Linked DNA regions of Homo sapiens. The protein of the gene in region 2 interacts with the protein of the main gene of each other region in a pairwise test. Each region holds a gene or a part of one and is shown on either strand. Other genes may lie near its edges. The genes, in order: ZNF483 and CAMTA2.

What was found.
Region 1: the proteins of CAMTA2 (region 2) and ZNF483 interact in a two-hybrid assay, tested with the Homo sapiens proteins (one large-scale study listed by BioGRID).

What each region holds. Positions count from the first base shown.
Region 1 is NC_000009.12:111,534,871-111,538,688, reverse strand, and holds part of ZNF483 (zinc finger protein 483), read right to left. Parts: intron 1-3,818. UniProt on the Homo sapiens protein: May be involved in transcriptional regulation.
Region 2 is NC_000017.11:4,981,077-4,984,894, forward strand, and holds part of CAMTA2 (calmodulin-binding transcription activator 2), read right to left. Parts: intron 1,968-3,818; coding exon 1,900-1,967; intron 1,817-1,899; coding exon 1,681-1,816; intron 1,100-1,680; coding exon of another isoform or gene 1,085-1,099; coding exon 1,013-1,084; intron 756-1,012; coding exon 602-755; intron 284-601; coding exon 149-283; intron 1-148. UniProt on the Homo sapiens protein: Transcription activator. May act as tumor suppressor.

The DNA.
Region 1 (3,818 bases), on a different chromosome or scaffold from region 2:
AGGGACATATATTTATACCAGTGCTGCTAGAACTACACAAAACACTTTCAGAATCCATTTGTTAAATTCCTCTCCAAAATGCTACTTAAATATGATAAAACAACTGTTGTCCTTTATTTATGTAATCACAGTTGACCCTTGAACAACACAGATTTGAACTGCAAGTGTCCACTTACAGGTGGTTTTTTTTTTTTTCTAAGAGATGGGGTCTTGTTCTGTCATCCAGGCTGGAGTACAGTGGCATGATTATAGCTCACTGCAACCTCTAACCCCTGGGCTCAAGCAATCCTCTCACCACGGCACACACCACTGTGCCTGGCTGATGTTTAAATTTTTTGTAGAAACAGGGTCTCACTATGCTGCCCAGGCTGGTCTCAAACTCCTGGCTTCAAGTGGTCTTCCTGCTTTGACCTCCCAAAGTGTTGAGATTACAGGTGGGAGCCGCCATGCCCAGCCCGTGGATTTTTTTCAATAAACATGTTAGAAAAATTTTTGGAGATTTGTGACAATTTGAAAAAACTTGCAGACAAACTGTGTAGCCTAGACATGTCAAAAAAAAAAACAACCCCAAAAATGTATGTCATGTATTTTTAAGATATATAGATACTAGTCTATTTTGTCATTTACTACTATAAAATGTACACAAATTATCAAGTTAAAATTTATCAAAACGTACACACACACTTACAGGCCGTACTTGGTGTCATTCACAGTCAAGAGAAATGTAAACAAATGTAAAGATACAGTATTAAATAATAACTGGGCCAGGCGCACTGGCTCACCCCCATAATCCCACCACTTTGGGAGGCCAAGGCAAACAGTTTGTTTGAGCCCAGGAGTTGGAGACCAGCCTGAACAACATGACAAAACTCTCTCTCTACAAAAAATACAAAAATTAGCTGAACATGGTGGCATGTGCCTGTAATACCAGCTACTCAAGAGGCTGAGGTGAGAGGATCGCTTCAGCCCAGGAGGTGGAGGCTGTAGTGAGCCGTGATCATGCCACTGCACCCTAGCCTGAATGACAGAGCAAGACCCTGTCACAAAATAATAATAATAATAACTGCATAAAACTGTAGTACATACTATACACTGTAATAATTTCATAGGCACCTCTTGTTGGTATTGCAATGAGCTCAAATGTCTGCTCTAAGTATCCACTTAAAATGCCAGGTAGGCCAGGCGCTGTGGCTCACGCCTGTAAACCCAGCACTTTAGGAAGCCAAGGCAGGAAGATCACTTGAGGTCAGGAGCTCGAGATCAACATGGTTAAACCCCGTCTCTACTGAAAATACAAAATTTAGCTGGGCATGGTGGTGCATGCCTGTAATCACAGCTACTTGGTGGGCTGAGGCAGCAGAATCACTTGAACCCAGGAGGTGGAGGCTGCAGTGAGCTGACATCACGCCATTGCACTCCAGCCTGCGTGACAGAGTGAGACTCTGTCTCCAAAAAAAAAAAAGCCACGTAATGCTAATCATCTCCACATAAGCAGTTTATGTCTCCAGGAAATTGCCTATCACCGTAAAAATGGATCTCTTGCGGTTCCCTCCTATTTTTCACTGTGTTTAGTGCAATACTGTAAATCTTGAATAACATCATGGGACCCATACAAAGTGCTGCTAGTAATGCTGGAAGTGCTCCCAACAAGCACAGAATAGTCATGATACTTCAAGAAAAAGCTGAACTGCTTGATATGTACCATAGACTGAGGTCTGCAGCTGCAATTGTCTGCCATTTCAGACAAACAACATAAATTTAGTGATCGATACACACAGTACAGTACCGTAAATGTTATTTTCTTTCTTGTCTTAATAGCATTTTTCTCTAGCTTACTAGAATACAGTATAAAAAACACATAACATATGTAATTATGTTTATGTTATCAATAAGGCTTCAGGTCAACAGTAGGCTATTAGTAGTTATGTTTTTGGAGAGTTAACGGTTATACATGGATTTTCAACTGTACGGGGGCGGGGGGGGTGCGGTCAGTGGCCCCTAATCCTGTTGTTCAAGGGTCAATTGTATACTGGAAACAGCCAATAAGTTGACTACAATAAATGTTTGAGAAGATGGAATAGAGCAAGATGGATCATTGCTTCTTTCTTTTAAGATAAACCAAGGTATTGATACATGTAATAACTTACTTTTGTTTTTATTTTTTGAGATGGAGTCTCGCTCTGTCGCCCAGGCTGGAGTGCTGTGGCGCCATCTCGGCTCAGTGCAAGCTCCACTTCCCAGGTTCAAGCGATTCTCCTGCCTCAGCCTCCAGAGTAGCTGGGATTACAGGCGCCCACCACCAAGCCTGGTTAATTTTTTTTTTTTGTATTTTTAGTAGAGACGGGGTTTCACCGTGTTAGTCAGGATGGTCTTGATCTCCTGACCTCATGATCTGCCTGCCTCAGCCTCCCAAAGTGCTGGGATTACAGGTGTGAGCCACCACGCTTGGCCTATTTTTATTTTTTTAAATGTAAATTTAATATATATATATAAATTGTGGCCGGGCACAGTGGCTCATGCCTGTAATCCCAGTACTTTGAGAGGCCAAGGCGGGTGGATCACTTGAGGTCAGGAGTGATCCACCTCCTTTCCATGGGGAAACGCCATCTCTACTAATAAAAATACAAAAAAAATTAGCTGGGCGTGGTGGCGCGTGCCTATAGTCCCAGCTAGTTGGGAGGCTGAGGCAGGAGAGAATTGCTTGAACCCAGGAGGCAGAGGTTGCAGTGAGCCAAGATCACGGCACTGCACTCCAGCCTGGGTAACTCTGTCTCAAAAAAAAAAAAAAGAATAATAATATATATAAATTGTAAGATATAGGTAAGTATAAAAAAACCTAATCCTGGCCGGGCACGGTGGCTCATGCCTGTCATCCTAGCACTTCGGGAAGCCGAGGTAGGAAGATCACGAGGTCAGGAGATCAAGACCATCCTGGCCAATATGGTGAAACCCCGCCTCTACTAAAAATACAAAAAAAATTAGCTTGGCGTGGTGGCACATGCTTGTAGTCCCAGCTACTTGGGAGGCCGAGGCAAGAGAATCACTTGAACCTGGGAGGCAGAGGTTGCAGTGAGCTGAGACTGCACCACTGCACTCCAGCCTGGTGACAGAGCAAGACTCCATCTCAAGAAAACAAAACAAAACCTAATTCTTCAAAGATAACCAGTGTTAACATGAATGTTTTCCAGATATTAAAAATCCATATACTCTATGTATTCAGGCATGTATTTATATGTACATTTTTTCCCTTTAACAAAAATGGAATTATTATGCATGCTGTCCACTGGATGAATTCCTACTCATCCTTCAAGATTCAACTCAAATGCGAATTAAAACCTTGCTCCTGTATATTCCCACAGCTCCTTATACATGTGCTTGATATAGTATGCATCAGTGTTAACACTCTTGTTTCGATACGTCCTCTAGTGTCCATAAAAATGCACCACTCACACCTCCCCCTGCGGGGATATTACCTGACAACCCCTGCTGCTGCTCTATGAATCCAACACTGCATTCACACAAATTCCCACGAGTTGCTCCCAGTCAATGATGGAGTACAGGATACTTACACAGGCCCATTTCTTTGAGACACAGGACTCCTCTGATAGGTAACTATGGCAAGGACTCCTGTTTGGCCCTGCCTAAACTTTTTTGGAACTGCACTGCAGCCGGGCGTGGTGGCTCATACCTGTAATCCCAGCACTTTGGGAGGCCGAGGCAGGCCGATCACGAGGTCAGGAGTTCAAGACTAGCCTGGACAACATGGTGAAACCCCGTCTCTACTAAAAATACAAAAAATTAGCCAGGCTTGGTGGCAG
Region 2 (3,818 bases):
ACGTCTGTTCATCTGGCCCATCTTTCTGGGACATGCAAAAGACTTGCAAATCAGCATGCAAATCCCATCAAGATGGATATCCCCCTGGCTTGCGTAAGAGCAGTGTGGCTAGGTGGGAAGACAGCCAAAAGGTCAGGGAGTAACTTACCAAGCCCCCCACTGCAGAGACAGGCGTGGGTTCGGGGAGCAGGCTTGGTTGGGTGGGTGTCCAAAATCTGCTGCACCAGGTGTTCTACAGAGAACTCTTCTGTTCCATTCCCGCAGCTCCACTTGATGCCATGAACTAGAGAAGTTAGGGGGAAGTGCTGTGGGATCCCCACGAAACAGGCCCCAGAGTACCTTGATGGCTCCTCCAAGCACCTGACATGCTTCAAGACTTCTGGCCAGGTGAACAGAGGCCAGCAGCCTCAAGACTGCTCAGATATGTTGCTTTAGTCCTTTCTCCGTATTCTAATACCTGAGAACACACCGGGAATCCTAGCACCCTCCCAGCTTGGAGGGAGATGATCAGCCCTCAGGCTTTGGGTCCAGAACCATGGCCCCTCTGGGAGCCCTGTTTCTACTCTCCCCTTGGAGCTCTATCCCCACCCTGCTGCCTTACACATGGGCTTCAGCTGTCCCAACAACTCCTCCCGGGACCACTTCAGCCACTCTCGACGGTCGCTGCTGATGGAACAAAAGATGGGGCTGCAGCCCTTTCCACAGTCCTCCAGGGCTGGGACGTTCAGGTAGTGCACAAGGACGATGTCAGGGTTCTGAGAGTATAAGGGGACACACAGAGCCATGGGGTCCTGAGGTCCAGGGGCTTGGCTTCCTAATCCTCACTTTCTTCCTGGGCACCCTCCTAACCTCGCCCCCAATTTCTGACTCTCTCCATCCCCAAGCCCCTTTCTCTTCTTCCCAGGCTCCTTTCCTCACTCAGAACTCAGCCATCCTTTCACTTCCTTCTTTCAGACCCGTGTCCCTCAAAGAGTCAGGAAGAGGGTGGCTCCCTGGGCTCTTCCGTCCTTACCTGGAGCAGCCAGTAGCAGCGCCGATGGAATGTGGGGACGATGGAAGAGTGAACGTAGCAGCCATAGAGACACTGCCAGGAGACAGGCTGGGGTGGGGGGAGGGCTAGTCTGCTCCCCAACTCTTCCTCTGTTCAGTCCCTTTGCAGGAATCCCAATCTTTCCACCAGTTCCTCTTCAACCCTTCCCCCACCCTCGCCCCCACCTATTCCCCACCCCTTTTGAATCCCAGCCACCCTGAGTCATAGATGAGCAGTGGGGCTGGGGCCTTATAGTGAGGACCAGATTTGAGATACGGGACTATCTAGAAACCAGAGGGCAGAGCAAGAATGCATCTGAGATGAGGGGCAATGATTTGGGGAAGAGAAACCTGTGCTGAGAGCATCATTGCTGGGATCCCTGAGGGAAACACAAGAGCAGTGAGGGGCCTGGGCATCAGTGTTCTGGAAGGGAGGCATGGCCTACGGCCTGGATAGTTGAGTCACGGAGGGAAATGGGAAGTGGAGAGTGGCCAAAGCAATGTCAGCCGACCCAAAGTGAGTGAGAAGGGAAGAGTAACTGGGAGGGGACTGAGGTGGACAATGCCACCAAGCCCAGGTCGGGCTAGAGCCCAGCTAAGGGTGGAGGAGGGCAGGCTCGGGAAGATGAGCTGAATATCTGACTCTCTTACCTCCATGCCCTGGACCTTCAGCTTCATGTGGTCCTCTCGGGTGGTCTTCCCATCCTTCCGCTTCTTCCAGAGGTAACCATCCTTCCGATATTTCACCTTCTTGCGATTGTAGAGGATGATGGAGCCATTCTGAGGCCTGGGAAGGGAAGGGTTGCCCTGGAGTTCTGTGAACAGAACCCAGGACCCCTGCCACTCCCCCATGTTCTCAAACTTTCTCACCTTGTCTTTGGGGCACAAGACAGCCACTCATCATGCTTCTCAAAGGTGATCAGGTAGGATGCAATCTCCTGTAGGAGAGGAGGCACTCAGCTGGGCATCTCCTTCACAGAGAGTCTCAGCCTGGCCTCTTGGTCATCCTGTCAGTGTCTCACTCTCTGCTGAGTTCTGGCAGCTAGTGGAGGATGCTTCTAGGTATCTGGACCCAGCAAGACCCACTGCCCTCCTAAGAACCCTTCTTTTGTCCTAAGACAAAAGTCTAACATTTTTTTGTGAATTATTTTACTCTCCAAAAATCTCATTCCTGTGCCCCTTTTTTTTTCTTTTGAGATGGAGTTTCACTCTTGTTGCCCAGGCTGGAGTGCAATGGCGCGATCTCAGCTCACTGCAACCTCTGCCTCCCGGGTTCAAGCAATTCTCCTGCCTCAGCCTCCCGGGTAGCTGGGATTACAGGCATGCGCCACCATGCCCGGGTAATTTTGTATTTTTTTTAGTAGAGACAGGATTTCACCATGTTGGTAAGGCTGGTCTCGAACTCCTGACCTCAGGTGATCCACCCGCCTTGGCCTCCCAAAGTGCTGGGATTACAGGCGTGAGCCACCGTGCCCAGACTTTTTTTTTTTTCTTTTGAGGCAGAATCTTACTCTGTCACCCAGGCTGGAGTGCAATGGCATGATCTCAGCTCACTGCAACCTCCGCCCCCCAGGATCAAGCAATTCTCTTACCTCAGCCTCCAGAGTAGCTGCGATTACAGGCACTTGCCACCGTGCCCAGCTAATTTTTGTATTTTTAGTAGAAACGGGGTTTCACCATGTTGGCCATGCTGGTCTTGAACTCCTGACCTCTGGTGATCCGCCTACCTCAGCCTCTCAAAGTGCTGGGATTACAGGCATGAGCCACCACTCCTGGCCTCTGTGCCCCTTCCTGACTCAAAAAATTTCAGTGGTTTGACACTGCCAGGAATTTCAGATTATTTATTTATTTATTTATTTTTTTGAGACAGAGTCTCGCTCTGTCACCCAGGCTGGAGTGCAGTGGCGCCATCTCGGCTCACTGCAAGCTCTTCCTCCTGGGTTCATGCCATTCTCCTGCCTCAGCCTCCTGAGTAGCTGGGACTACAGGCGCCCACGACCACGCCCGGCTAATTTTTTGTATTTTTAGTAGAGACGGGGTTTCACTGTGTTAGCTAGGATGGTCTTGATCTCCCGACCTCGTGATCCACCCGCCTCAGCCTCCCAAAGTGCTGGGATTACAGGCGTGAGCCACTGTGCCTGGCAGGAGTTTCAGATTCTTTAGCCTGACTCCAAGGTTCTTCCCAACAAGGGATCAAACTTTCACTGTTCCCACTATTTACCCATATTGCTCCTACAATTCCTGCCAGATGGATCCATTGATTCCTTCCTGAACATGCTTTGAATAGTTACCTCCTGCATGTTAGTGCCCTACAAGGCAGGTACCATGTGCACACCTCTCCATATCTGGAAATCATAGCCATTCTATAAACCAAACCCCTTTTCAGATGCTCCATGAAGCCCTGCTGACCACACTGGACCTTCCTAAACGCTCTATAGCACTTACAACAATCACACATACACACATACACGCATCGTTTTACTGACAGTCCTCTTCTGACATCAAATTGATAAATATCAACAACCAACTACATACAAGGCAGTAAGTATGCAGAATACAGAAAATGTGTAACACAAGGACTGTGCCTCCTCCAGAAAGAGCCAGTATCAGTGGTGGTTAATAACAAAGGTTCCAGCCGGGCGTGGTGGCTCATGCCTGTAATCCTAGCACTGTAGGAGGCCGAGATGGGCGGATCACTAGGTCTAGAGTTCGAGACCAGCCTGGCCAACATAGTGAAACCCCATCTCTACTAAAAATACAAAAATTAGCCAGGTGTGGTGGCGTGCCTG